Linked DNA regions of Homo sapiens. The protein of the gene in region 1 interacts with the protein of each later gene in a pairwise test. Each region holds a gene or a part of one and is shown on either strand. Other genes may lie near its edges. The genes, in order: TSEN15, ASB12, PHOSPHO2 and AIF1L.

Region 1 (7,926 bases):
ATGCCAGCTTTTGCCTGAAAGAGCATCATTGAATGGACAATAATGTTTATTAAATACAAAAAATAAAAACTCCAAACTTCTACCTAATACTCAGCTGAGCAAATATCACTCGTAACACTACCTCCTGTCTTTGCTTTTCTAGTAGCTTCTGTTACTCAGTAATTCCCAATGTAAATAAATAAATTGCAAAATTAACAGCAAATGCATAAAAGATTGCTTATTATGTTAAGAATGCTATATCCCAATCCAACCCCCCAAATCTCTACCACAGTCCCAATAACAAAACAATATAAACAAACAACTTACTTTCCATGAGGTCCAGGTAAACCAAGAACGCTACATAAACTTGGGTGGCATCTCCTATATCTAATTCCATCATTTCTAGATACTGAAAATTAAAATATAATTGTCAAATTGAGAAGAAAAAATTATTTAATATTTTCTTCCAATCATCAAGTGGTCATCAAGCATATATAATCTATAAAATTCTTCTAGGTATAGTGGAAGTTAAAAGGCAATATAAGATCTTATCTCTGTCTCTAAAGAACTTGCAATTGTTAAATACATGCACACTTAAAATTGTTAGGCAAATAACAATATATGACTGTAAGTGATTAAAAACCATGTAAATGGAATAAAAAACATGACACAGCAGGTCAGAAGAGCTCTACTCAGAGGGACTGGTGAAAGATTTATAGCAGAGGTGGGATGGGATACAAGTTGAGCACTGAAGAACATTATGATTTAAGTAAGTGGAGAAGTAGAGTAATACTGCAGGTAATTACACAAAGGTGGGATTAAGCCACATACATTCAAGGGCCTGTAAAGAAACCTATCTGCCAGCAATAGAGAAACCTTTTTAATAAAACTTGTGATGGGACATGTTAGTGGGTACTGTGTATTTCCCTAGCCTCTTATTTGTATATGGAGAGAATCTGCTAGAGTATCAGTCCTAGCCTCTCTACCCACTCTTTCTCACTTTAAGAGTAGATTTTTTAAAAGGAATTGACAAGGAACTAGAGAAAGCTGCTTCTTTCAGACTACTGGTCAGCATAAGGGGAATACTTTTCAGGGGCCTACACCTGCAGGAGAATTCTGAGGCTGCCCAGCTATGCCAGCGACTAGGTGGATATGCAGGGCTAATGCTGAGTTGAATTATTAGCAGACCTGCATGGGGACAGGTCTAAAGTCACATTCTCCCATCAGCTTCACTGTAACTGTACAGGTTCAGGAGGACAGGGGTTAATTAGTTGTCGACTTCAAACATGTTTTGAAAATAACACCCAAAACATAATTTTGAGCCAGGTTACAAGGCTTTGGTGGTCAAGCTAAACATGTGATTTTATCAGTATGGAAACACTGAGGATTTCTAAGCAGGAGAATAATAAAATAAAAGTGTGTTTGGGGATAATAAATCTGGTACCATTTTACTGGATGAAACTACATAATTTTTAAATTAACAGAAAGGTGAAATTGGAAAAACAAATACCCCCTATTATTTTATTACTTGTTCTTTTTCTTTTAAAAATTAATTTGATCCTTCAAGAAGAGAAATCAAAAGGGGAGATTTGATGGTCAAGGTGTATACAGCCATTAACTTGAAAAAGAAAACAATCTACAAGTATATAAACTGAATAACACCACCAAATCTAGATAAAGTCTTAAAAAGTTGTTACTGGTGTTTCGCTTATTAAGTACTTATATAGTGCTTTCTGTATGTTGAATGGCTTACAAATATTCATTAATTTAATCCTGTAACAACCGTATAAGTAAGTATGGACTATTAATATCCCCATTTTTCAGGTGAGGAAACTAAGGCATAATAAGATCAAGCAACTTGTCCCAAATCACAAGGTTGATAAGTGACAGAATCAGGATTTAAACTGAGTCTGATTTTGAGTTCATGCGCCTAACCAATATGCTGCCTCTCCATGCTATTGTTTCCCTAAAAGGGCACTAAATAATATTTCCATGCTATTGTTTCTTTTTCTCACCTTTTGGGAGGATGAAGGGGACAGAGTAGGAAGATAAAATTAAGCAAGAGAAGCTGAAAAAGGTTAACTCTTCAAACTTATACCTTCAAATTTTTTCTTGGCTGTTTTTAGATGATTATGAATTATTGCTCTCTAGCAGAAGAGTGCAATTCTGTTAAAGTACCGTAGAGACTAGTTTTTGAGATTCTTACAAAACCCACATCTCCATTCACTGTCTATTCACTGCTTGGAACCGTACTTGTACAAGGCAGTAATGTCTCAAGCAGAAGTAAGCAGAGGACTATCTTGATCTCGCCTGCTGCTAATCTAGAAAAATACACGCAAAATGTGAGTAGCTCTGCTTTGAGCAAGAACCTATTCAAACTTTCGAAGAAATCTGAAATATTAGGAATCTGCACCTTTTCAAAATAAAGATGCATTCTGGGCCCAAGGCTAAGTGTAAACGTGACTGTGCTTAAATCTTTATCACTATGGACCCCTAGATCTTATCCATCGCCCACAAATTGTCTTGCATGGTTACCGTGAGGATTAAATAAATTTATCCCCCAAAGGGGATTTACCTAGACAGCAAAACTAGTGGAGCGCTTATTAGGGATCTCCGGCTTGAGAGGGGCGGAGTTACTGTCTGGCTCTCAGTTCCAAAATGGCTTTGGCTGGGGGATTGAGATAGTGCAACTTGTTTAAACAAACAAAACCGATGCTGCCTGAGGCTGGCAGTTGTGCACACCGGTCCCCCTCGGTGAGGGTGGCGCGCGTCCTCAGTCTCCCACTGAGGAAGAAAGAAAGAGAGCTGCCTGGGAGTGTTCTGCCTGGGTTAGGGGCCTGGACGGCGCCCTGCTCCTCTCGCGCCTCCTGACCTTAGGGTGAGTGCCCATCCAGGCGTCCTCAGGGGCCCACGAAGGAGCTCCACCGCCGTCGCCAAAGCCGCGAACACCGCCCGGACCCAGGCCGCTGCAGCCGGGGGTCGGCTCGGAATCGCCGCGCTCCTCCATGCCGGCCGGTGCGGCGCTCCCGTGGTGCACCACGACCCGCGCCCGGCCAGAAGCAGCGGCGCGCGCGCCTGTGGGTTCCGCTTCCCCGAGGCTCGCAGCTGCAGTGCGAGAGGGCTCAGAAACTGGGAGGAAAGTTGCATCAGCCCCTCCTTCTGACCAAGGTAGCTAGAACCTGCGCGAACGCTCTCTAGTTTCGCTCTGCGTTTATTCAAATCTGAGCAAATTCTAACGTGAAAAATATTAAAGAGTAGCCTGCGCCCTGAAGCTCTTAATCCTCTTTAAGTCAGTGCTGCCGATAACTCTCTGAGAAAGTTGGGGGATACATACGTCCTCTTTGCCTTCAGCAGTGGGGTCCTGGTTTCTGATTGCTGGGGACGGGAAAGGCCTTACTCAGTGCCCTGACATAGAACTTTAAAGTAGAACCATACTTTCAGGGTGGACCCACGTTTCAGGATTAGAGGAAACACGAGTTGCTGAACGAGTGTTCAGAAAGGTAGGATACAAACTAGCATAAGCATGTGATCTGGAAGCCAAGGATGAGGAGTTTCAAACAGGCAGAGTAGCACATTTTAAGTATTTTTTAATTTACTGTGAGTGAAATGGGAAGCTATTGGAGGCTCCTGGACGTTTTCATAGGATCACTCTGACTGATATGTTGAGGATAGACTGGAGGGAGCAAGGACACAAACAGAGACTGGTTAGGAGGCTATCGCATTGACCAGGACAAGGGTGACTCAAAATCCAAAGTCCCAGGCAGGACATAACTTCTGTTTTCAACCATGATAGACTAAGACCCTAGTGGACCATCCCCCAGCAGAAAACAATTTGGACACAATGCAAAAAGCTGAATATACTGGAATGTGAATAGTGGACTGGTAGGAAGGGCAAGCTTGCTTGAAGATCAGGAACTACACTTGGACACAATACAAAAAGCTGAATATACTGGAATGTGAACAGCAGACTGGTAGGAAGGGCAAGCTTGCTTGAAGATCAAGAACTCCACAAGAAAATTCTCCTCTCTTTGGCATTTAGCTTGGGGCAAAGTGCAGTCCAGAAGTCAGGCTCAGCAGTACCAGGGATGCATGTATAAAACTTATCAGTTATTCTTGTCTGGGGAAGCAGAAAAGTGAAGACAGAAAATTTTGAATTCTGAAGAGATTAAGAAATCCCAAGGAAGGAGTCAGAGAGTGGATCCCCAAACTGTCAACCCACATCTCTGAGAGATCCTGAACCACCCAAAACAGAATCACAGCAGCTCAGTTAAAAACAAAAGATCTGAACTGAGACCAGAGCTGTCTCCAAAAGGGAGAGAGTTTTCAGTTAAAATCTAGCCGGGAAAATTACCTACTAATACAAAGGAAATAACACTCATCAGAGAAGAATAATAGAATCCAGACTCTCCACTTAACACTCACAAAGTCCAGAGTACTATCCAAAACTATCTGACATATGAAATTCAAGGAAATGGATCGCATACTCTAGAGATCAACCCTGAGATGAATCAGATATTGAAACTGACAGATAAGGATTTTAAAGTGACTATTATAACTATCCTCAATGAAGTAAAACATGTTTTCAATGAATGAAAATCTCAGGAGACAAATAGAAAATCTCAGCAAAGAAAAAGAAAAAAAAAGATTTTTAAAACCAAATGGAAATTCTGAAAATTGAAAATTATAATTTTAGAAATAAAAAATTCACTGGGTGAATTTAACAGCCAAAAAAAATTACAAAAGAAAAAGTAGGGAACTTGAAGATAGAGCAATAGAAATTATTAAAAGTAAACAACAAAGAGAAAAATTATCTTTAAAAAGTGAGTAGACCAACAGAGATTTGCTACATGTCAGACAATCCAACATGCATGTAAACAACAGAAGTAGAAAAAAAAAGGGACAGAAAAAATTTTTGAAGAAAGAGTGGTGGCCAGAATTTCCCCAAATTTGATGAAAAACACATTTACTAGTACAAAATGCTAAATACATAGCAACTAAAATAAACACAAAGAAGTCTACATTGTAATAAAACTATTGAAAGTCAAAAAAATAAAGAGAAAAGCTTGAATGCATCAAAAGAAATAACACATCATACACAGGGAAAAGAAGGGCATCTATTATTGAATGAAATGTAAAGCCACACATGAAGATTCATATGTTGCCCTCAAATACATTACATTTGAATGAACCTTTGCCACCACAAAGCAGCTGCTAAGCCCGAAAGAAGAAAATGGCACTGAAATTAATTGGGTCATTGAAGCATGAAACACTGACACGAATTCAAGTGATTGGAAGTGAATAAATCTCTCTGACTCCTAAAGATCCAAATCAGTTCATATGATGGCATTTTTAAAAGCATTAAGAGTATTTTGATGCTAATCTGAGTAGAGGGAAACTTTTATAAATCAGTAAGGATATCCAATGGGATTAGGGACTATATGAACCAGCCTCAAACATCTGCAGGGGAAGAATTTCAGCTTATGTTCAAGAAAAAATAATTGGGGGTATGGAAAGAACCATAAACCAAAAAAGCAACAGATAAATGCCATCCTTTGGCAAATAGATTAAATACTGTTGCTTAGAAAAAGCATGATACATTCAAGAATGAGTATTACGTGCTTTTCAAAAGAGTTGAAGAATGAAAAGGGAGTGTCTGTTAGCTTCCCTGTTAATGTAAATTTTTAAATAGGTCTTGGTGATTGTGAATGGCTAAGAATGAACACAAAGGATTTGGGAACACTTAGACAACCCAGTATTTAAAGTACAGAATCAAAATACCTATTGTGACAATCTAGAGTGAAATCCACTAGAGAACAGAGGAGAGTTTCAGTGTCTGGTATCCTGGAGGATTTCTCATTTTGTAAATGCTTCAATAGTTCACTCTATTAGAGAACCAAAGTAGTGAGAAAAAAAAGCTAGATAAGAAACAACGAATGAAATCCCCCCTGAGTATATTGGATTTAATCAAATTCATTGTAATCTGGCACTTGCTGAACTCATTTCCCAATGATATCCTGAGCCAGATCATTTTATTCCTACAAAAATCTGTAATGTCTAGCCAGAGACATATTAATTCAGTAAGAGTCTCGAGGAAATGCGAACACTAAATTGTGATGTGAATCTCTAGTGTGGAAAGAAAATTTAAAAAAGAAGAAGAAAAGCTTTTACACAGTATTGTATGAGACAGTGATTCCAAGCTGAAAAATGTAGCCTAGCATTCTGGATCAGCTTTTCATTCATTGGTTGTAAGGAGGTTCACATATATCTTGTTCCTTTTTTTGTACACAAAACACACAATTTCCTATTCTCTGTGTTTCAAGAACAGAGAAAGATTCAAGAAAGAGAATGATTCAATATTGTAAAGATGGCAATTTCCTCCAAAGTTATTTACAGATTCTATCAATTCCAATTAAAATCCCAAAAAGTATTTTCTTAATACCTGATAAACTGATTCTGAAATGTGGGCATAAAGGGCCAAAAATAACCAAGACCCTTTTTGTGAACAAAAGGGAGAGAACTTACGAAGTTAAAGTTCTGAAATATAAATATCTTATAAAGATAAGGTTTTAAACAAAATTTAAATTCTTACAAAGATCTCTAATTACAAGTATGTGATATTGGCACATGGATAGGTAAAACCAATGAAGCAAAATAGGGAGCCAGGCAACAGACCCATACACATGTGGGCAGATGCAAGAAGGGAAGGAGAGAAGGGGTGATTGGCTACACGGTATAGGCAAACACTTTTAAATCTCTAGGAGAAAATATAAAAGAATATTTTATGACCCCAAGTTTAAGAGTGATTTCTTAAGACACAAAAAGCACAAACCATATGCTTCACTCATGTCCCTGTGAAGACACCACCAAACAGGCTTTGTGTGAGCAACAAGGCTGTTTATTCCACCTGGGTGCAGGTGGGCTGAGTCTGAAAATAGAGTCAGCGAAGGGAAATAGGGGTGGAGCCGTTTTATAGGATTTGGGTAGGTAAAGGAAAATTACAGTCAAAGGGGGTTGTTCTCTGGCGGGCAGGGGTCGGGGAGGGGGGGGTCACAAGGTGCTCAGTGGGGGAGCTTTTGAGCCAGGATGAGCCAGGAGAAGGAATTTCACAAGGTAATGTCATCAGTTAAGGCAGGAAGAGGCCATCTTCACTTCTTTTGTGATTCTTTAGTTATTTCAGGCCATCTGGATGTATATGTGCAGGTCACGGGGAATATGATGGCTTAGCTTGGGCTCAGAGGCCTGACAATATGGAAAAAATTTGGTAAATTTAACTGTATCTCAGTTAAGAATTTCCAACACTAAGAGAGTGGAAGGAAAATGACATCTGTAACACACAATTGAAAGAAAAGATACCCAGAATATATACAGAACTCCTAAAAATCAATTAGGAAACAAAACAAAACACTCCTTAGGTTAAAAAAAAGAAAGTAAACAGAAAAAAAGACATAAAAGGCCAGCAAACATAACTTGATGTTCAGCAACATTGATTGAGTGAGAAAATGTAAATTGAGGCAAGAAGATACCATAATACACCTATCAGATTAGCAACAAAAGCCAAGAGTTGGCAGAAAAGTAGACCAAAGGGAAGATGCACAAATCCTATGATCCAACAATTCTAATCCCAGGTATATATTCTAGAGCAATATTTTTAAATGAAGTGCCAGGACCTGTTAGTGGTTGTGAAATACACTAGTTATTTTAGTTATGTTAGTGGTTAGTGGGTTGAGTACAGTTTTCAAAAAGTAATTATTTAAAACACACATAGAGTTTCAATCAACAACTTGAATGAATCTCATAAAAACTAAAAACCTAATGTATAGTCAAAATGTTAGTTATAGAAGCGTATATAAGATATTTGATTTGTTTAAAATTCTAATATAGCAGCTGTATTTATAATAGCCCAGAAGTGGAAACAACCCAAATGTCCCTCAGCTGATGAAAATATAA
Region 2 (7,232 bases), on another chromosome or scaffold:
TCTCTTCTCCAACCTCTTCTCTCCAGTCGCTCTCACCTTTATTCTGATTATTTTAAGCGTCTCTATCCGAGCCCCCAGCTCTCTCTTTAGCTCCAGGCATGTATCCACTGAGTTTCTTCAAGCACTTCAAAGACAGCAGTATCACATCACCACCACTACCACCATGACTAAACTTGATCCATATATCATTTCCTCACCATCTACCTGGTCAACCAAACCAAAAACCAAGACTCCTGTCAATGCTCTTGCCTCTTTATCCCACTCTCATAAAATCCCATCAAGTCCTGTGGATTTTACCTACTAAAGACTTCTCCAGACCATCTGTGCTCTTCAGGGACCATTCTCATTGACTATGCTTCATCTAGGCCCCCACTGCCTTTTGCCTCAGCAGTTATAGTGGTCTCATAGGTAGTTTCTCTTTTCAATATTTTCTCCACATTGTTGCTAAAGTGGTAATTTAAAAATACATATCTGATCTCTACCAATCCTCTGTTTTAAATACCTTAATGGCTCCCCTTTCTTTCCAGCTACAGCCCAAATACTTTAGCCCAGCTCAGAGGTCCTTCATGAATAAATCTTGGCCAATCTCTCCAGCCTCACTTCCTACTACTCCTTGACTTATATCCTGAGGTCCAGTGACAAGAGACAAAAAGTGATGGCTCTCCATATACACCATGTTTCTTTCTGCCACATGCAACTCCTTCTGCCAAGTTAATTCCTGCAGAGTCTGTGTTATAGCACTATAGCAGTCATCACACTGTATTGTAACTTCTATATGGGTCTTTGTTTGCCCTAGTGCAGATAAAGAGGCCTTATGTGGTAGTGGCAAAACATGGGAGTTCTGCTTCTACCCCAGCTCTAGCATTTAGTAGCTGTGTGACCTGGGGCAGGTCACTTAATCTCTCTGTGCCCATTTCTTCATCTGTAAAGACAAAATAACAATAGTATCTGCCTTGGAGGGTTCTTAGGATTAAATGAGTTAGTACATAGTAAGTGCTTAGAATAGTGCCTGAAAGTAGTTCTCAGTAACTATTTTTACTATGATGATGATTGTTACTTATGTCTCCATTTTCTAAGGCTATTGCTCCCTACTTAATGTTCTAGAACCTCAGAGCTGCAAGGGACCTTGTAGATCATTTAATTTAATTTTTTCAATTTACAGATGGGGAAACCAAGGTTCAGAGCAGAGCAGGGACTTTGGTAAGGTCACATGGTTGTTATTGTTAGTTGTCTCATTAACAAGAACTCAGAACACACTTATAATCCTGTGCTTTTCAAAGCAATTTCATGTAACAAAATAGGTAATATTATCCCCATTTTTTGGATGGAGGAAACTGAGTCCAGAGAGGGTAAGGGGTTTTCCATATACCTTACATCAAGGCAAAAGCAGAGTCAGAAATAGAATCCAGGTTTCTCTACTCCTCCTCCTGTTCTTTCTATTACAAGATGAAACACAAACACATACCCCCCTCCCTTGACTCCAGCAGTCACATTGCAGCTCCCAGGATCTTCAGCTTTTGAGTGTCATGCTGAATTCCAGGGTCTTCGGTAATGGAAGGTTCCTTTACAAATAATTTATTCTGATAACTGGTAGGAATTCCCTCCTTAATATTTTATTTTGGCGACTGGGATCTGGGCAGATAATTGGCAGGGAGTGGCAGAGGGAAGTGCTGAAGTTCTTGCTAAGGTTCATACCAAGAGCCCACAGCAGAGCTCATATAATGAGCCTCCAGAGGGAGACCAAGCCATGCTCTCCAGCTGGCTGTGGCACTGGAGTGAATCGTGCCTCCATTAGATAAGGACAAGGAAATCCAGCTAGCCTGTTGTCTTACCTCACTTTGCTGTAGTTTATTAATCAAAGAGTTACTATGTGCCTGTTATGTGCACGTAGCTCCTTCCTGATCCTAAAGATGTAGGAGTTTTAAACCTTTTTTTTTGTGATATTGGTTCCTGTGACAAACTAGCAAAGTCTGTAAACACCTTTCAGAATGGTTTTTGCTACATAAAACACATAAAATTAAAGGAAACCAATTATATTAAAATGTGACTGTCAAAATATTTTTAAATGCATGATATAGTAAGAGATGTTCTTTAGTAACACATTAAATAAAAAGGTCTAGTAATAATTTCTAAGTGGTAATAAATGACATTTCAAGATCTCTGCCACAACTGTAATATGATATGAAATATCTGTGGTTTCTTCTGGTAACCAAATTACATGAACTGGTTATGCTACTGCCATTTGATACCTGCATTCATCCTTGAAGGAAATAGTACATTTTAGTTAGAGGTTAGGGGGAAAAAAGGTAATTGTCTATTCATCCAAGTTTCTGGACCCCTTGAATTCTATCTAAGGCCCTCTTGGTGTCTGTCAATCCAGGTTAAGTACTCCCACAGGAAAGTGGTTGGTTTCCGTGCATCCTAGAGCATTCCTTCAGGCATTAGCAGAACGTTTTTAAGCCTCATCTTCCTTCTCTCACCCTTACGAGTTCTGCCCTTATGCCCTTAAACCCACTCTAAGGCACCCACACACACAGACTAGCCAACACCACACAGGGACACAAAGACAAATCTCCACACTTCCTGTAGTGTATAATCACAATTGCTCTCAAGAAGCAGGTCTGTTTAGACCCGAGGTCCTAGGCAGACATATCCTCTTGGGACACACAAGGCAGGGAGCTGGCATTATATCCCTCCTCCCTCCTCCTGGTGGGTTGCCCTAACGACCTTCCAAGCGCCTCCCCCAACTCCCACCACGTCCCAGACCCAGCGGAAACAGCCTACAACGGGAAGTGGGTGATCACAGGTCTGTGGGCCCGCAGTGGTCACTCTTCTCAAACCGGTCCTAGGCTCCAGGTACTCACCGGGCTTCAGCCTGAGGCCATGCTGCCCAGGGTCGCTGCCCCCCGCCCCTCTGTGAAACATTGGGGCCCTGGTGTCCCCTCCTTAGGGAGCCCCCACGGCCCCAACCTGGAGCAGCTGGGGCTCTCGTTTCCCACTGTTAACAATGCCGTTGAAAGACTAGGAGTCAGTCCCTAGTCTTGGTCCAAGGGGCTAATTTTAGGCTACCCTCCACCCCCTCTTCCCAGGCCGTGTTATCTTACCAGTGCCATTCTGGGAGCGATTTCAGTAAGAGGAGGGGCTCTCCCATGGGGAAGTCCTGGAAGGACTGACTGACAGATAGACAGGTGCCTGGTGAGGCTAGGGTTCCTGCTCCCAGCCTATCCTCCTATATCCCTCCCTGCCACTCAAATGGGAGACAGGGTGAGGCCCCTGAGCTGCGGTTGTTCCCACACCTCCACCAGGGGGCACTGAGAAGGTCCAGCCTCAGCCTAGCACACTTTTTTTTTCTCTTTTTTTTTTTTCTAATTATACTTTAAGTTTTAGGGTACATGTGCACAACGTGCAGGTTAGTTACATATGTATACATGTGCCATGTTGGTATGCTGCACCCAGTAACTCGTCATTTAACATTAGGTATATCTCCAAATGCTATCCCTCCCACCTCCCCCCACCCCACAACAGGCCCCGGTGTGTGATGTTCCCCTTCCTGTGTCCATGTGTTCTCATTGTTCAATTCCCACCTATGAGTGAGAACATGCAGTGTTTGGTTTTTTGTCCTTGCGATAGTTTGCTGAGAATGATGGTTTCCAGCTTCATCCATGTCCCTACAAAGGACATGAACTCATCATTTTTTATGGCTGCGTAGTATTCCATGGTGTATATGTGCCACATTTTCTTAATCCAGTCTATCATTGTTGGACATTTGGCTTGGTTCCAAGTCTTTGCTATTGTGAACAGTGCTGCAGTAAACATACGTGTGCATGTGTCTTTACAGCTGCATGATTTATAATCCTTTGGGTATATACCCAGTAATGGGATTGCTGGGTCAAATGGTATTTCTAGTTCTATATCCCTGAGGAATCTCTTCTTTTTTCTCTTCTGAACTGAGCCTCTCTGCATATCCTCCAACTCGTTGCCCCTCCCCTTCCTTCACTGCTCAGAGTGAGGAGGAAGGTAGGAAGGAGAAGCCTCCATAACAGAATGTGTTCTCACTCAGCTTTTCTAAAGCTTAAGAAGGCCTTGGTCATTTATAAAGACCTTCCCAGTCCACTGACCCACCAGGCTCAGCCTGAAGAAAATGCCCACAACCTCCCACTATCCTCACCCTAAAGCATCACCATTACTTTAATGTGTCCAGCACTGGAAACTTTGTCAAAAACTCAGCTCTCACTTTTTCTGCCCCAAAACAGCCCTCTAGGGATCTGAACCCAGATATTATATCCTCCATGTCACCTTGTTTCAGGGAAAACAGCCCCAGCTCCTTCAACTATTTCTTTCAATCTGTTATCTATTTAGTTCCCTCCCCAGTCTTGTCTACCTCACTCATGAAGTGGTCAAGCAATCTGCTTGCACATTGATAGTGCCAGGGAGCTCACAGAAGACCAGATAACTCCTCTGGAAAATGTGGGAATGTCCTAGTGTGATCAGTGACTCTGAAGATCAGAAACATCAAAAAGCATACCAGTTTCAGCTTAGCTTGAGCCAGGGGACTTTGTCTGAGGCCTCATGCAAGCCCAATTAGCAGTCAACAAATAAGCTATTATGATGCTAAAGATGACAGAGTAAGGTGTTATTCTTGAAAAAAAGATTTGCAGGATTTTTTAATGTAAGTTTTTGTTGAGATAATTGTAATTCACATGTGGTTGTGGAATTAATACAGATTCCAAGTACACTTTACTGAGTTTCTCCCAATGCTAACATCCTGCAATACTATAGTACAATATCTCAAGTATGACATTGGCATTGATACAATCCACTTATCTTATTTAAATCTCCCCAGGTTTACTTGTACTTTTTTGTGTCTGTGTGCGTACATTTAATTCTATACAATTTTATTACATGTAGCTTGTGTATACCACCTTAGACAATATACAGAATAGTTCTATCCCAATTAGGATATTTCACATTGCCTTTTATAGCCATATCTACTTCCTTCCTACTTCCTTTCCATTCTTCCCACCTTGGTACCTAACCCCTGGAAACCTCTAATCTGTTCTTCATATCTATAATTTCAAAATTATATGAATGAAACCATACATGATATAAACATTTGGAATTAGGTTTTTCACTCAGCATGTCCTTGAAATTAATTCAAGTTGCTGTATGTATCAAGTTTGTTTATTTTTATTGCTAAATGTGATTTATAGTAGGTATGTAGCATAATTTGTTTAATTATTGACCGATTGAAGGACATGTGGGTTCTATTTACTATCTGTCTACTATGAATAAAGCTGCTATGAACATCTGTGTACAGGTCTTTATCATTGTCGTTTTATAGTAGAGTAGATTGACTCCTTTAGCTTTACTATTTCATTTCAAGATTGTTTTAGCTATTTTAGTATCTGCACCTCTTTATATAAATTTTAGAACCAGCTTGTCTATGCCTACAAAAAACCTCTTTGAGATTTTGATAGAAATTGTGTTAAATCTATATATCAGTTTGGTTATATATATCAGAGTGCTTTGTTATACTGAGTCTTCCAGTGTATGCACATGATATGTTTTTACATTTATTTAGGTCTTCTTTGATTTCTTTTATCAGCATTTCTGATTTTTCAGCATATGGATTGTATATTTTGTTAAGAATATACCTAAATATTTCAATTTCTGTGGTGCAAATGACATTGGATTTTGATTTGGGTTTCCATATATTTGGTTCTTCTTGTTCCATATGTTTGTTTCTTCTTAGAAATGCAATTGGTTCACATGCACATGTATGTTTATTGCAGCACTATTTGCAATAGAAAAGACATGGAACCAACACAGATGCCCATCAATGATAGACTGGATAAATAAAATGTGGTACATATACACCATGGAATACTATGCAGCCATAAAAAAGAGTGAGATCATGTCCTTTGCAGGGACATGGATGAAGCTCGAAGCCAAATCCTCAGCAAACTAACACAGGAGCAGAAAACCAAACATTGCAGATTCTCACTCATAAGTGGGAGTTGAACAGTGAGAACATATGGACACGGGGAGGGGGACAACACACACTGGGGCCTGCTGGGAGGTAGGGGGCAAGGGGAGGGAGAGAATGAGGACAAATATCTAATGCTTGTGGGGTTTCAAACCTAGATAATGGGTTGATAGGTGCAGCAAACCATCATGGCACATGTAACAAACCTGCATGTTCTGCACATGTATCCTGGAACTTAAAGTAAAATTAAATTAAATTTTAAAAAAAGAAATGCGTTTTTTTGTGTGTGTGTTGATCTTGTATCCTAACTGAACTCCTTAGTCACAGGAAAGATTTTGTAGTTGTTGATTGTTTACTTTTGTTTTTGTTTTTTGGTAAGTTTATTGGGATTTTCTACATAGCCATTCATGCCATCTGCAAATGAGGGCAATTTTATTTTTCCTTTTCCAATCTGTATGCCTTATTTGTTTTATTTGCCTTAATACAATAGCCAGAACATCCAAGACTATGTTGAATAAGAGTTGTGAGAGTGGACATGTGTGCCTTTTCCCAGTCTTAGAGAATTAGCATTCAGTCGTTCACAATTAGGTATGATGTTAATTGTACATGTTTCAAAGATGCCCTTTATCAAGCTTATGAAATTCTCTTCATAGTTTTCTGAGTTTATCAGGAATGAATGTTAAATTTTGTTAAATGCTTTTTTTTCTCCATCAGCTGATGTGATCATTTCATTTTGCTTTCTTTAATCTCTTGACTGGTGGATTATGTTTGTTAGTTTCAAATGTTGAACCAGACTTGCATTCTTGGAATGATCCGCATTTGGTAATGGCATATAACTCTTTTTTTATGCATTGTGGGATTCAGTTTGCTAATACTTTTGGTGAGGAATTTTGTATCTGACTTGATGAGAAATATTGGTTTGTAGTTTTCTTTTTTTGTTCTGTCTTTGGTTTTAGTATCAGAGTAATAATGACCTCATAAAATGAGTTGGGAAATGTTCTCTCCTTTTCTATTTCTGGAAGAAATTGTGTAAAATTGGTGTGAATTCTTCTTTACATTTTTGGTAGAATTGTCCAGTGAAACTGCCTGGACCCAGAGATTTCTTTTTCCGAAAACTTTAAATAATAAACTGCATTTCTTTAATGGGTATAGGATTATTCATATAACCTATTTCACCTCTTTTAAAGTTTTGATAGTTTGTGGTTTTTGAAAAATTGGTCCGTTTTTTCTAAGTTGTTGAATTTGT
Region 3 (4,771 bases), on another chromosome or scaffold:
AGAATAAAATATGCTTACTTGCTCCAGGAATAAATTAAAAAATATAAACTATCAACCACCTTTAGTGGAGACCACTAGCTGTACCTAACTCAATTCTGTACTTTTTTCCCCAACTTTTCCTGGGCACATGACTACCTGGAATGAAAGCTATATTTTCCATCCTTCCTTGCTATTTACAAGTAAGGCATTATGACTAAGTTTGGCCAGTGACATTTAAATAGAAGTGTTGGGTACAACTTCTGGGAAATTTCTTTAGACAGGGGATGTAACTTTCTCACTGCCCTCTTTCTTGCTGGCCAGAGTGCTGCTGTGAGGGCTAGAGCTTCACCAGCAACCTTGGATCATGGGTTGAATGCCAAGTGCTGAGGTTGGTAGACTAACACAGCAACCCTGAAATACTTACCTCTGGAATTCTTTCATGTGAGAGGAAAAAAAAATTCTCTCTCTTTTTTTTTTTTAAGCCTCTGGTATTTGGGGTTTTAGTTTTATGCTGCTGAACCTAATCTTAAGTGATACACTTTTCAATTGCTGACATATTAATCCTTTATTAGAAATTGTAAATGAGAAATTATATCAACACCTGAGGACCAAACTACAACAGAATATTCCATAGGCTCAAGATTTTGAGACATTCTGGAAAGAGTTTTCTGTAAGGTATATCCTTTCCGTGGCATGGCAACATCATCATTCTTTAAAAAGGTGACTGGACAGACATCATTTCCACCATCACCAATATAAACAATTTGTGTATAATTCACTCCCTGTTGTAACTGTTTATCTACAAATTCTATCAAAACTACCTTTTTGCAAAGATTCTTTGGGCATCTATTGCAAGAATGAGTATGATAATTTTCAACAGTGAGATGACCATTGCTATTAAAAGCTGCTGGATTTGTAAACACTTTATCAAATATGTCATGAAAACTGGCAGCTTCTAAAACCCAATCTATGAAGACCGAATTTGAATCTGAAATAATAATGCAGTCAAATTTATCCTTATTCTTTCTTATAAAGTTGAAGAGTTCCACCATCCCTGGAGTGAAAGGCAATGATGTCACTGCTCTTTTCATTTCATGTTCTCTTACACCCTTATCTCCCAAATACTTAAAGACTCTGCCCATAAATTCTGTCCAAAATCCTTTTCGATAAGAATCACGTAGTTCAATAGGAAGCTTTTTGTTGGGAGCACATTGTACAATCCAAGTGTCACTATTGTCATCTATGATTGTATTGTCAAAGTCAAAAACTAGCAAAATTTTCATGGTTCCAGAAATAGATTTGGATTACCCTGAAAAAGAAGAAATATTATTCCCTAAACAAACTCTGTTTACATATCTAGCTAAAATACTTATTTAATAAACATAACTAAATGTTAATCTGCTAAAGGGAGGAATATAAACAAAGTAATTAAGCACTTCAAGACCACTACCTAACCACTTTTCTCTAAGAAGCAAAGTTCGTATTTGAGTATTTTAAGTGGAAAACAAAATATATAAAAAGGACATTCATAGTATTATTGTGTTCCTGGAGGTGTGTTTCTTATAGAATTTATAAGAAAGAAAAAAAAGCATTTCTTACTATCATTAAATTATCAATCAAACCACACTTATTTTATTAGATTAAAATATTTACAATCCTCATATTAAATAACAGATCATGTATAAAGGACTCTCTGTGTACTAACCAAAATTCTGAACAAATTTAACATAACATGAAATCTTGGAAGATGTAAAATAACTTTTTAAGAAAAGGTATTTAGTAACAAAAACAAGCAATGGGGAAAGGATTCCCTATTTAATAAATGGTGCTGGGATAACTGGCTAGCCATATGCAGAAAACAAACTGGACCCCTTCCTTAACACCATATACAAAAATCAACTCAAGGTGGATTAAAGACTTAAGTGTAAAACCCAACACTATAAAAAACCTAGAAGAAAATCTAGGCAATACAATTCAGGACACAGCAAAGGCAAAGGTTTCATGACAAAGATGCCAAAAGCAAATGCAACAACAGCAAAAATTGACAAATGGTATCTAATTAAACTAAAGAGCTTCTGCACAGCAAAAGAAACTATCAACAGAGTAAACAGACAACTTAGAGAATGGGAGAAAATTTTTGCAATTTATCCATCTGACAAAGGTCTAATATCCAGCAACTATTATAAAGTTGAAAAGTTCCACCATCCCTGAAGTGAAAGGCATCGATGTCACTGCTCTTTTCATTTTATCTTCTCTTACACCTTTAGCTCCCAAATAGTTAAAGACTCTGCCCATAAAATCTGTCCAAAATCCTTTTTGATAAGAATCATGTAGTTCCTTGATAAGGAACTTAAACAAATTTACAAGAAAAAACAAACAGCCCCATTAAGAAGTGGGCAAAGACACAAACAGACAATTCTGGAAAGAAGACAATACATGTGCCCAAGAAATATATGAAAAAAAAGCTCAACATCACTGATCATTAGAGAAATGCAAACTAAAGCCACAACGAGATACCATCTTATACTAGTCAGAATGGCTATTATTAAAAAGCCAAAAAATAACAGATGCTGGCAAGGTTGTGGAGAAAAAGGAACACTTTTACACTGTTGGTAGGAGTGTAAATTAAATTAGTTCAACCATCGTGGAAGACAGTGTGGTGATTCCTCAAAGACGTAGAGGCAGAAATACCACTTGACCCAGTAATCCCATTACTGGGTATATACCCAAAGGAATGTAAATCATTCTATTATAAAGATACATGCAAGCGTATGTTCACTGCAGCACTGTTCACAATAGCAAAGACATGGGATCAACCTAAATGCCCATCAATGACAGACTGGATAAAGAAAATGAGGTACTTATACACCATGGAATATTATGCAGCTATAAAAAGGAATGAGATGATGTCCTTTACAGGGACATGGATGGATCTGGAAGCCATTATCCTCAGCAAACTAACACAGGAACAACAACAAGAAAAACCAAACACCATGTGTTCTCACTTATAAGTGGGAGCTGAATCATGAGAACACGTGGAAGGGAATAACATACCCTGGGACCTGTCAGAGGGTGGGGGTGGGAGGAGGCAGAGCATCAGGAAAACAGCTAGTGGATGCTGGGCTCAATACCTAGGTGATGTGATGATCTGTGCAGCAAACCATCAGGGCACACACTTACCTATGTAACAAATCTACACATCCTGCACATGTACCCCTGAACTTAAAAGGTGGAAATCAAAAAAATTAAAAAAGTATTTAGCTTAAAATCAATTTCTAAATATCAATATTATAAGTAAATGATTGCTGACACTCTATATGATATTCTAAACAAATTACCTGAGAACTGGAGGCCAATTTAATTCTTCCAAACTAGAAGTAACTTGGTTAAGAGTTTTCACATGTTTATTTATAGCTGCTCTAGATAGTTTAGCTCTGGGGTGCCAAATAATTTGAATACACCTGAGTAATCATACTGTTTGTGGTGTGACAATTACTTATGTCTCTGTTTTCATTAGAATATAATGAAGGTGATTAATTATAAATCTCAAGAGAAAAGGAAAGAATAAGCTGGTCAACTGATGGTAAGAATAAACATTATTTATAAAAAATAACTATATAGAATATCCAGAAAAGGATATAATTAATGTGTGTAAACAGATAATAATAATAATTTTGAGAGTCATTATATGTCAGGCACTGACCTAAAAACTTTGCAATATCATACCATTTAATTGTCACAACCCTATTAAGTAGGAATCATTATTATCCTCATCTTAAAGATATATAAGCTGGATCTTGAAGTGGTTAGGTGTTAGTAAAGTGCCAGAGCTGGAATCTTAGGTTGATTTGATTCCAGACTTCATGCTTTTAAGTACCAAATTCTAGTGTTAAAAAATAGAATATTTAATGACTACTCATTAGTTTAAAAATATAACACTAAGTAGGTAATTTTGGCAGAAAGATATTTAATTACATAAAAACATTCATTACTTTCAAAGTACACACTAACCATAACACCACATCTGTGATACTCTTTATAACCATTTTGAGGTTTTTACAAGAAATCCTAAAAAGGCAAAGAACCACAGCAATAAGAAAAAGATCAATTAAAAATGAAAAACATGGCATTTAACCACACATATTCTCCAGTTTATAACAGTAGACACCCAGTAGTGAAGACAGAATAGAGCTCTTGACTCACATAAGACTAAGTATTCTGTGTCTCTTAATTTAGAATATCTAGAGAATAATTAACCTATAGGGGTATCACCTGTTGTGTGAATGTGGCTGGTACATAGTTTTTGTTATTCTGGATCCTTGTATCACTAAATGCCTAATCCAGATGCTTCTGACTGGTTCCCTGAAATTTAAATGCAGAATTCACTTTCCTACAGAAACAATGTAATAAATAATAAGGCATAATTGACAATCACAGTAGTACTGTAACTAGGCACATTTTAAATTAAATATGCTTTTTGAGAATTCTGAATTTATAATTAAAACAAATTTCAAATGTAACTCACTGTTGTTTGAAAACTGCCTCAAACCTAAACTTAATTAGCCACAAATTACTGAAATTCCTGAATTATTAGCCTCAAAATAGCATGAGACTGAGGTAACATAGTTCCCCTGCTGATCTGAAAGTGCACTTTTAAAATTTTCCCATCTTTTTCTGTTAGTATTTTCTCACCACTCAACATAAACCTTTAAAAAATACTTACCCAACTTAGTATTTCCAAGACAATCTTACTTCAGCATTGGGATTAGGATAAACAATCATGACAATCTTC
Region 4 (7,031 bases), on another chromosome or scaffold:
ACCTATAATCCTAGCACTTTGGGAGGCCGAGGCAGGCAGATCACTTGAGCCCAGGAGTTTAAGACCAGCCTGGGCAACAGAGGGAGACCCCATCTCTACAAAAAATACAAACATTAGCTGGGTGTGGTGGCATACACCCGTAGTTCTAGCTGCTCTGGAGGGCTGAGGTGGGAGGATTGTTTGAGCCCAGGCAGGTCGAGGCTGCAGTGAGCTGTGATCGTGCCAACAAAGAATAAATAGGGTCGGCCGCATTGAGAAGGTGACATTCGGCCGCATTGAGAAGGTGACATTGAGGCTGGGTGTGGTGGCTCACGCCTGTGATGCCAGGAATTTGGGAGGCCGAGGCAGTCGGATCACCTGAGGTCAGGAATTTGAGACCGAACTGCTCCATATGGTGAAACCGCATCTCTACTAAAACAAAAATTAGCTGGACGTGTTGGTGCGCACCTGTAGTCCCAGCTACTGGGGAGGCTGAGGCAGGAGAATTGCTTGAACTCGGGAGGGGGAAGTTGCAGTGAGCTGAGATCGCGCCACTGCACTCCAGCCTGGCGACAGAGTGAGACTCCGTCCCAAAAAACAAAAATAAAACAAAACAAAAAAGACAAGGTGACATTGAGCAAAGGCTTGAAGTTGGTGAGGGAGAGAACCACGCAGATCTGTGGACTCCAGGCAGGGTGCACAGCTAGTGCAGGGTGCAGCCCAGGGCAATCTTCCCAACCACTGCTGCCGTTCATGCTGTGCACGTGGCCTTGCTCTTCATCCCTGCCTGGTTGGTCTGTGTCTGTCTGTGTGCAATTTGTCTCTAAGGCCAGGGACCATGTCCTTCCACTTGCACCCATCCACCTACAGAGTGGCCCAAGTAAAACTGGATCTCTAGGGCTGGTCGGTCCAGGCTGAGGCAGGATTTCTGGTCAACCAGACCCCAGGGGCTGGGACAGCCCCTCCAAATCTCTCCCCAGAGGTTCCCAGATGTTGGTGCTCTTGTGCCTCCCCAGGAAGGTTCTCTAGTTCTTGGTAAAGTGAAGGAAATGCAGGGTCACTGTGGTGAGTTGGACCTAGGCTGAATGGATTCCATTTAAACATTCAGAGATGGTGAACTTCCTACTTTTATGAAATGTTCTTTTCTGAACTCATGGCAACAGTCAATGGCCATTGTTTAAAAAGTCTTTACTTGGCAAAATAAAAAGTTGGCACTCGTATATTAGTGCGCCCCTCTGCCCCGCCTTTAAAAATGTTTCATGTCTGCGTGACCCCAAAGTCTGGGAATCACTGATCTAATATGTCCCTTCACTGGGCAGATATGGGATCTGGGACCCTGGGAGGTGCCTGGTTTGCTCACAGTCACAGACAAAAGTTAATTGTCCTCCTTTTGGGCAGAGGATGGGGTGAGGGAGCAGTGCCGAAGAGCTATGAGAGGGAGCCAAGAGGAAAGGAAGTCCTCGACAGAGCCAACTAGGAGGAGGGCGGCCTCCCAGGCTGCCGAAGAAGGATCCAGCGTCAGCTAAGTGGAGGCGGGGCCGTGCCCAGTGCATTGCAATGAGGCCTGGAGTGAGGCTGTGGCCAAGCCAGCAAGACCCCATAGGCCCTGGGACTGCCCTCTGCCCAGGTGCAGGAGGACACAGGTCCTGGAGTCAGATAGACCCAGGTTCGAAACCAACCTTCCTTAGCTGTCTGTGAACCTTTTTTTTTTTTTTTTTTTTTTTGAGATGGAGTCTGTGGCCCGGGCTGGAATGCAGTGGCACAATCTCGGCTCCCGGCAACCTCCACTTCCCAGGTGCAAGTGATTCTCCTGCCTCAGCCTCCCAAGTAGCTGGGATTACAGGCACACGCCCCCATGCCCGGCTAATTTTTGGACTTTTAGTAGAGACAGGGTTTCACCATGTTGGCCAGGCTGTTCTTGAGCTCCTGACCTCAAGGGATTTGCTCACCTCGGCCTCCCAAAGTGCTGGGATTACAGACGTGAGCCACTCACTGCGTTTGGCCTGTCTATGGACTTTAGATGTGGTATTTAACCCCTCTCATCCTCATGTTTTAACTTGTAAAATGGGAATAATAGTGGCTGTGAGGATTTAGTGAGATAGCACAGTGTCTGCTACAGCCAATGTTTTACCAAAAGCTACAGGACAGCCAGACCCCTCTCCCAACCCAGTGAGGGAAGCCCTGTTGCCAGGTAGGTTTCTCCTGTGGTCAAGGGGTGCTGAGTTAATGTGGAGAAATTTGAGCCATAGAAGAGGCCATATTCTGCCTCATACTCATAATCTTATCTGTTGCTCATTGAGAGCTGAACTATGAGCCCAGTGCCCAAGGAGTGGGTACTATTGAACCTATTTTAGAGCTAGTAAAAAGGGAGACTGAGATCCAAACCCAGATTGCTTTATAGTCAGTTAGTTCTTGTCATCCTCTATTCTGCTTGAAGCCTCTTAGGAGTTTGCAACAATAGACTAGGAAGGTAGTGAGTTCTCTGTCCTAAGAGATATGTAAGAACAGACTTGGCCATCATGTATTAGGAAGTAGGTCAAGTGATTAATGTGGGTGACATTGCACATCATTTTAAACACCAGCTTTCTGTAATTTCAGGATAAGGACCTTGTCATATTCACCATGGTCTCCTCTGCTCCCTTGATGCTAGCACAGTGAGTGCTGTGTGCACTGTGTCCCCCCAGAATGTTGAATGAGTGAATGAATGAATGAATGAATGAATGAAGGAGCAATGTCCATGTCCAGTGAGCTCAGTAATGAAGAATGGAAGGTCCACTGGCCGGGCTCAGTGGCTCACACCTGTAATCCCAGCACTTTGGGAGGTCGAGGTGGGCGGATCACATGAGGCCAGGAGTTCAAGACCAGCCTGGCCAACATGGTAAAATCCCGTCTCTACTAAAAATACAAAAATTAGCCGAGCATGGTGGCACACTCCTGTAGTCCCAGCTACTTGGGAGGCTGAGGCACAAGAATCATTTGAACCTGAGAGGCAGAGGTTGCAGTGAGCCAACATTGCGCCACTGGACTCCAGCCTGGGTGACAAGAGCGAGACTCCGTCTCAAAAAAACAAAAACAAAAACAAAAAAAGAATGGAAGCTCCAAAGAAGAGGGGTTATTTGCAGAGTTCGAGTGGTAGGAGGGGAACAGGCCCTGTGCTTCCCCATCTGAATACAGGTTCCAGGGCTGCTGAAAGATTAGCCGCAAGATACATAAGTTACCTGGCACTGTATCTGGCAGGTGTTCCCTCATTGGTCGCTTTTTGCTGTAAGGTCAGAGACCAGGCCAGATGAACACCTGCAATCTGCCCACCTTTAAAGAATGTAGGGGCTAAGGATGCAGGCTCCAAATGAGATGGAGCCGAGTTGAAGCTCTGGCTTATGAGCCTCAGTTTCCTCACCTGCAAAATGGGTATAATAATAGTAGCTACTGGCCGGGCGCCGTGGCTCACACCTGTAATCCCAGCACTTTGGGAGGCCGAGGCGGGCAGATCACTTGAGTCCAGGAGTTTGGGACCAGCCTGGGCAACAGAGTGAAACCCTGTCTCTACAAAAAATACAAAAATAAGCCAGCCGTGGTGTGGCGCCCATCTGTAGTCCCAGCTACTCAGGAGGCTGAGGTGGGAGGATCACTTGAGATCGGGAGGCGGAGGTTACAGTGAGCTGAGATTGCATCACTGCATTCCAGCCTGGATGACAGAGCAAGACCCTGTTTCAAAATAATAATAACAATAGCTCCCTCTTGGGACTCCTAGGAGATGTGAAGAGATCACATAGGTAAGGGCTTCACCCTGGAGGCCATTGTTAGTGTCCAATCCTCCCCACCCTGCCCATCTGGTCCTGAAAGGACTCATTTGAGTCTCTCCAAGCATCTGAAGGGAAGGCAGGCCAGAGATTAAAACCCCCATTTTACAGGTGAGGAAACAGGTGAGAGGGTAAGTGTACAGTCATTTTCCCGTTAGAGCAGAGACGACGAATTCACACTCTCACTGGATTTCTTTTTTCTTTTCTTTTTTTTTTTTTTTTAAGATGGAGTCTCTCTCTGTCTCCCAGGCTGGAGTACAGTGGCATGATCTCAGCTCACTGCAACCTCCACCTCCCAGGTTTAAGCTATTCTCCTGCCTCAGCCTCCCAAGTAGCTGGGATCACAGGTGCCCACCTCTATGCCCAACTAATTTTTGTATTTTTATAGAGACGGGGTTTCACTATGTTGGCCAGGCTGGTCTCGAGCCCCTGACCTCAGGTGATCGGCCCACCTTGGCCTCCCAAAATGCTGGGATTACAGGCGTGAACCGCCGCACCTGGCCTCACTGGATTTCTATACAAACTCAAGAAGCAGATCATGATTCTCATTTGGTAGATAAGGCAATAGAAGTGTGGGGAGGGCCGGGCGCGGTGGCTCACACCTGTAATCCCAGCACTTTGGGAGTCTGAGGCGGAGGGGTGGGAGCGGGGGGATCAACTGAGGTCAGGAGTTCGAGACCAGCCTGGCCAACATGGTGAAACCCCGTCTCTACTAAAAATACAAAAATTAGCTGGGCATGGTGGCAGGCGCCTGTAATCCCAGCTACTGGGGAGGCTGAGGCAGGAGAATCGCTTGAACCCAGGAGGTGGAGGTTGCAGTGAGCTGAGATCGCGCCATTGCACACCAGCCTGGGGGACAAGAGCAAGACTTCTTAAAAAAAAAAAAAAAAAAGTGCACGGAGGAATGAATGAGCTCAGGATCACATTCCTAAGAAGTTAATGATGGAACCAGGGGCTTGTCTTTGGAGCTCACAGCTTCTCGGATCTGAAGCTGGGGTGTCTTGGGGGAGGGGCACGGGTCCCAGCATTGGTAATGTAGCTGCTGGCTGGAGGGCTTAGTCACCCGTAGTGAACCCTCTGGGGCCTCCCCAAGCTGCTGGGCAAACTTCCTACCCACAGGGTGGCCAGTGCAGATCTGCCTCCAAGGGGCGACAGGAAGCCGGGGTGAACAAGGGACAAACTGGGTCTGGTCGCACCTGGTTACCCGATAGGAGGGAAGGCCCCCGGACAGTGGGCCCATGTGTGGGTGACTTCTGTCCCCAGTCCCTTGCTCAGCACTGTCCTCTCACCTCTGTAGGAGTTTCTGTGTGACCAGAAGTACAGTGATGAAGAGAACCTTCCAGAAAAGCTCACAGCCTTCAAAGGTAAGCTGGGGCGGGCTGCCCTGCATTTATTCCTGGGGGAGGTGGGCTGGCCCCTCATCCTTGCACACAGGACCCCTCAGCCCCACAGGACTAGGCTGTGGCCCTGTTTTGTCCAGAATGCCCTTCTTCCTGGAGAAGGCTTGGAGACAGGGACCCCCTGAGAGGTGGGGAGAGGCCCCTCCACCTGCCTCCCTGCCCCTGCGGGCCCCGTCACCCCTCGCCTGCAGCCCGGTCCTGGCCCTGCCCCTCTCTCTCCCCTCACTGCCCACGGGGCTCAGGCTGGTTCCCGTCCGCCGCTGCCCAGGCCCCGTCACTCCCGGGCCCCGCACACAATCAGCTCTTTGTGAGCAAGCCTTGCCTCTCCCCCTCCCCAGCAGAGCGTCTCAGGAGCCCCTGCGGAGAATGGACGTTTGTGTCACCGCAGTGGGGCAGGGGGGCAGAGTTTCTGCCCATTGAAACCCGGCAGCACGGGATGAAAAGAAAGCAGGGCCTGGGAGCCGGCGCGGGGAGAGGGGCAGCATAAAGGTCCCTCTGTTTGGGGCCCTGGCGCTTGGTTCCCAGCCAGCACCTCGAAAGGAGAGGAGCCGGGCACATAGGGGGCAGCGCAGACCCACCTTCCCTGCCAGGGGAGGCACTTAGGCGCAGGAGCCCTGGGCTGTCATGGAAAATATCCTGGAGGTTGCATTCCCCTCCAAAGTGTTTGCAGTGTGAGCATCCTCCCGGCTCCAGGGCAAAGAACTTGGCCAAGTGTTCCTCAAATCACTTCCAGTTGTCCTTAGGCTGGACATCTAGGGCTAATCATATTAATAACAGCTGGCATTTGTTGGACGTCGGCCTGTGTGAAGCACTTCTCGTGCGGCGTGGCGAGCTCCCCACATCACCCCAATCGGCCTGGAGGAAGATGGCGCACTTGTTAATGTGCAGATGGAGAAACTCGGGCTTGGAGGGCGGGGTTGTTGGCATGGGGACACATAGCTCGCCTAGGGCAGAGTTGGGACTTGAACTCATGTCGGTCTGGCTCCAAAGCCCCTGCTCTCAACTGTTACGCTATGATGCTTTTTACATGAAGAAGAGAGAAGGGAAATAGTAAAAGACACTCCTGACCCCACCCCATCCCAGCCACCTGTAGGAGAGCTGTGAAAAAGAGAGCAGTCTATTCCCTTCTGTCTGCATACCAGCGTGGCCACTCCCAGGGGTGGCTCTGGGAGGAGGCACGGGTCTCAGGGCTCTGGCACCCTTTCTACTTGTCTTCACTGGAATGTTGGGCCAGACAGGAAGTTACATCATTCACTCATTTGTTCTCCAAATGCGCACCTGTACATGTGCCAGGACCATTCCAGGCCAGGGGCACCATGGTGAACGTAAAAGGCAGCTCCCACCCGGGAGCCTGTGTTCTCGCTCGGGGGGCGGTGTGAGAGGTGGTGGGAGACTAAACAGAGAGCCGGGAAATACAAGGTTAGCAGACTGTGGTAGGTGCTTCAGTGAGAAATGAGGGAGGGAGGACAGGAGTGCTCAGCTGTGGGGAGGGGGTGCAATTTTGAAAGGGTGGGGAGGCCAGGCACGGTGGCTCACACCTGTAATCCCAGCACTTTGGGAGGCCGAGGTGGGTGGATCACCTGAGGTCGGGAGTCCAAGACCAGCCCGGCCAACATGGCGAAACCCCATCTCTATTAAAAATACAAAAATTAGCTGTATGTGGTGGTGGGTGCCTGTAATGCCAGCTACTCGGGAGGCTGAGACAGGAGGATTGCTTGAACCCAGGAGGCAGAGGTTGCAGTGAGCTGAGATCAAGCCACTGCACTCAAGCCTTGGTGACAGAATGAGACTCCATCTCAAAAAAAAAAAAAAAAAAAAAAAGCATAATGGTTAAGAACGGGGGCTTTGGAGC

Evidence for each region.
Region 2: the proteins of TSEN15 (region 1) and ASB12 interact in binary tests that used the Homo sapiens proteins (3 or more experiments, as listed by UniProt).
Region 3: the proteins of TSEN15 (region 1) and PHOSPHO2 interact in binary tests that used the Homo sapiens proteins (3 or more experiments, as listed by UniProt).
Region 4: the proteins of TSEN15 (region 1) and AIF1L interact in binary tests that used the Homo sapiens proteins (3 or more experiments, as listed by UniProt).

Annotation. Positions count from the first base shown.
Region 1 is NC_000001.11:184,046,816-184,054,741, reverse strand, and holds the start of TSEN15 (tRNA-splicing endonuclease subunit Sen15), read right to left. Parts: upstream 3,013-7,926; 5' UTR 2,987-3,012; coding exon 2,852-2,986; intron 389-2,851; coding exon 307-388; intron 15-306; coding exon 1-14. UniProt on the Homo sapiens protein: Non-catalytic subunit of the tRNA-splicing endonuclease complex, a complex responsible for identification and cleavage of the splice sites in pre-tRNA. It cleaves pre-tRNA at the 5' and 3' splice sites to release the intron.
Region 2 is NC_000023.11:64,227,599-64,234,830, forward strand, and holds the start of ASB12 (ankyrin repeat and SOCS box protein 12), read right to left. Parts: upstream 3,010-7,232; 5' UTR 2,865-3,009; intron 1-2,864. UniProt on the Homo sapiens protein: Probable substrate-recognition component of a SCF-like ECS (Elongin-Cullin-SOCS-box protein) E3 ubiquitin-protein ligase complex which mediates the ubiquitination and subsequent proteasomal degradation of target proteins.
Region 3 is NC_000002.12:169,697,463-169,702,233, reverse strand, and holds the end of PHOSPHO2 (pyridoxal phosphate phosphatase PHOSPHO2), read right to left. Parts: 5' UTR 4,703-4,771; intron 4,370-4,702; exon of another isoform or gene 4,252-4,369; intron 1,289-4,251; 5' UTR 1,263-1,288; coding exon 537-1,262; 3' UTR 526-536; downstream 1-525. UniProt on the Homo sapiens protein: Phosphatase that has high activity toward pyridoxal 5'-phosphate (PLP).
Region 4 is NC_000009.12:131,106,521-131,113,551, forward strand, and holds part of AIF1L (allograft inflammatory factor 1-like), read left to right. Parts: intron 1-5,076; coding exon 5,077-5,143; intron 5,144-7,031. UniProt on the Homo sapiens protein: Actin-binding protein that promotes actin bundling. May neither bind calcium nor depend on calcium for function.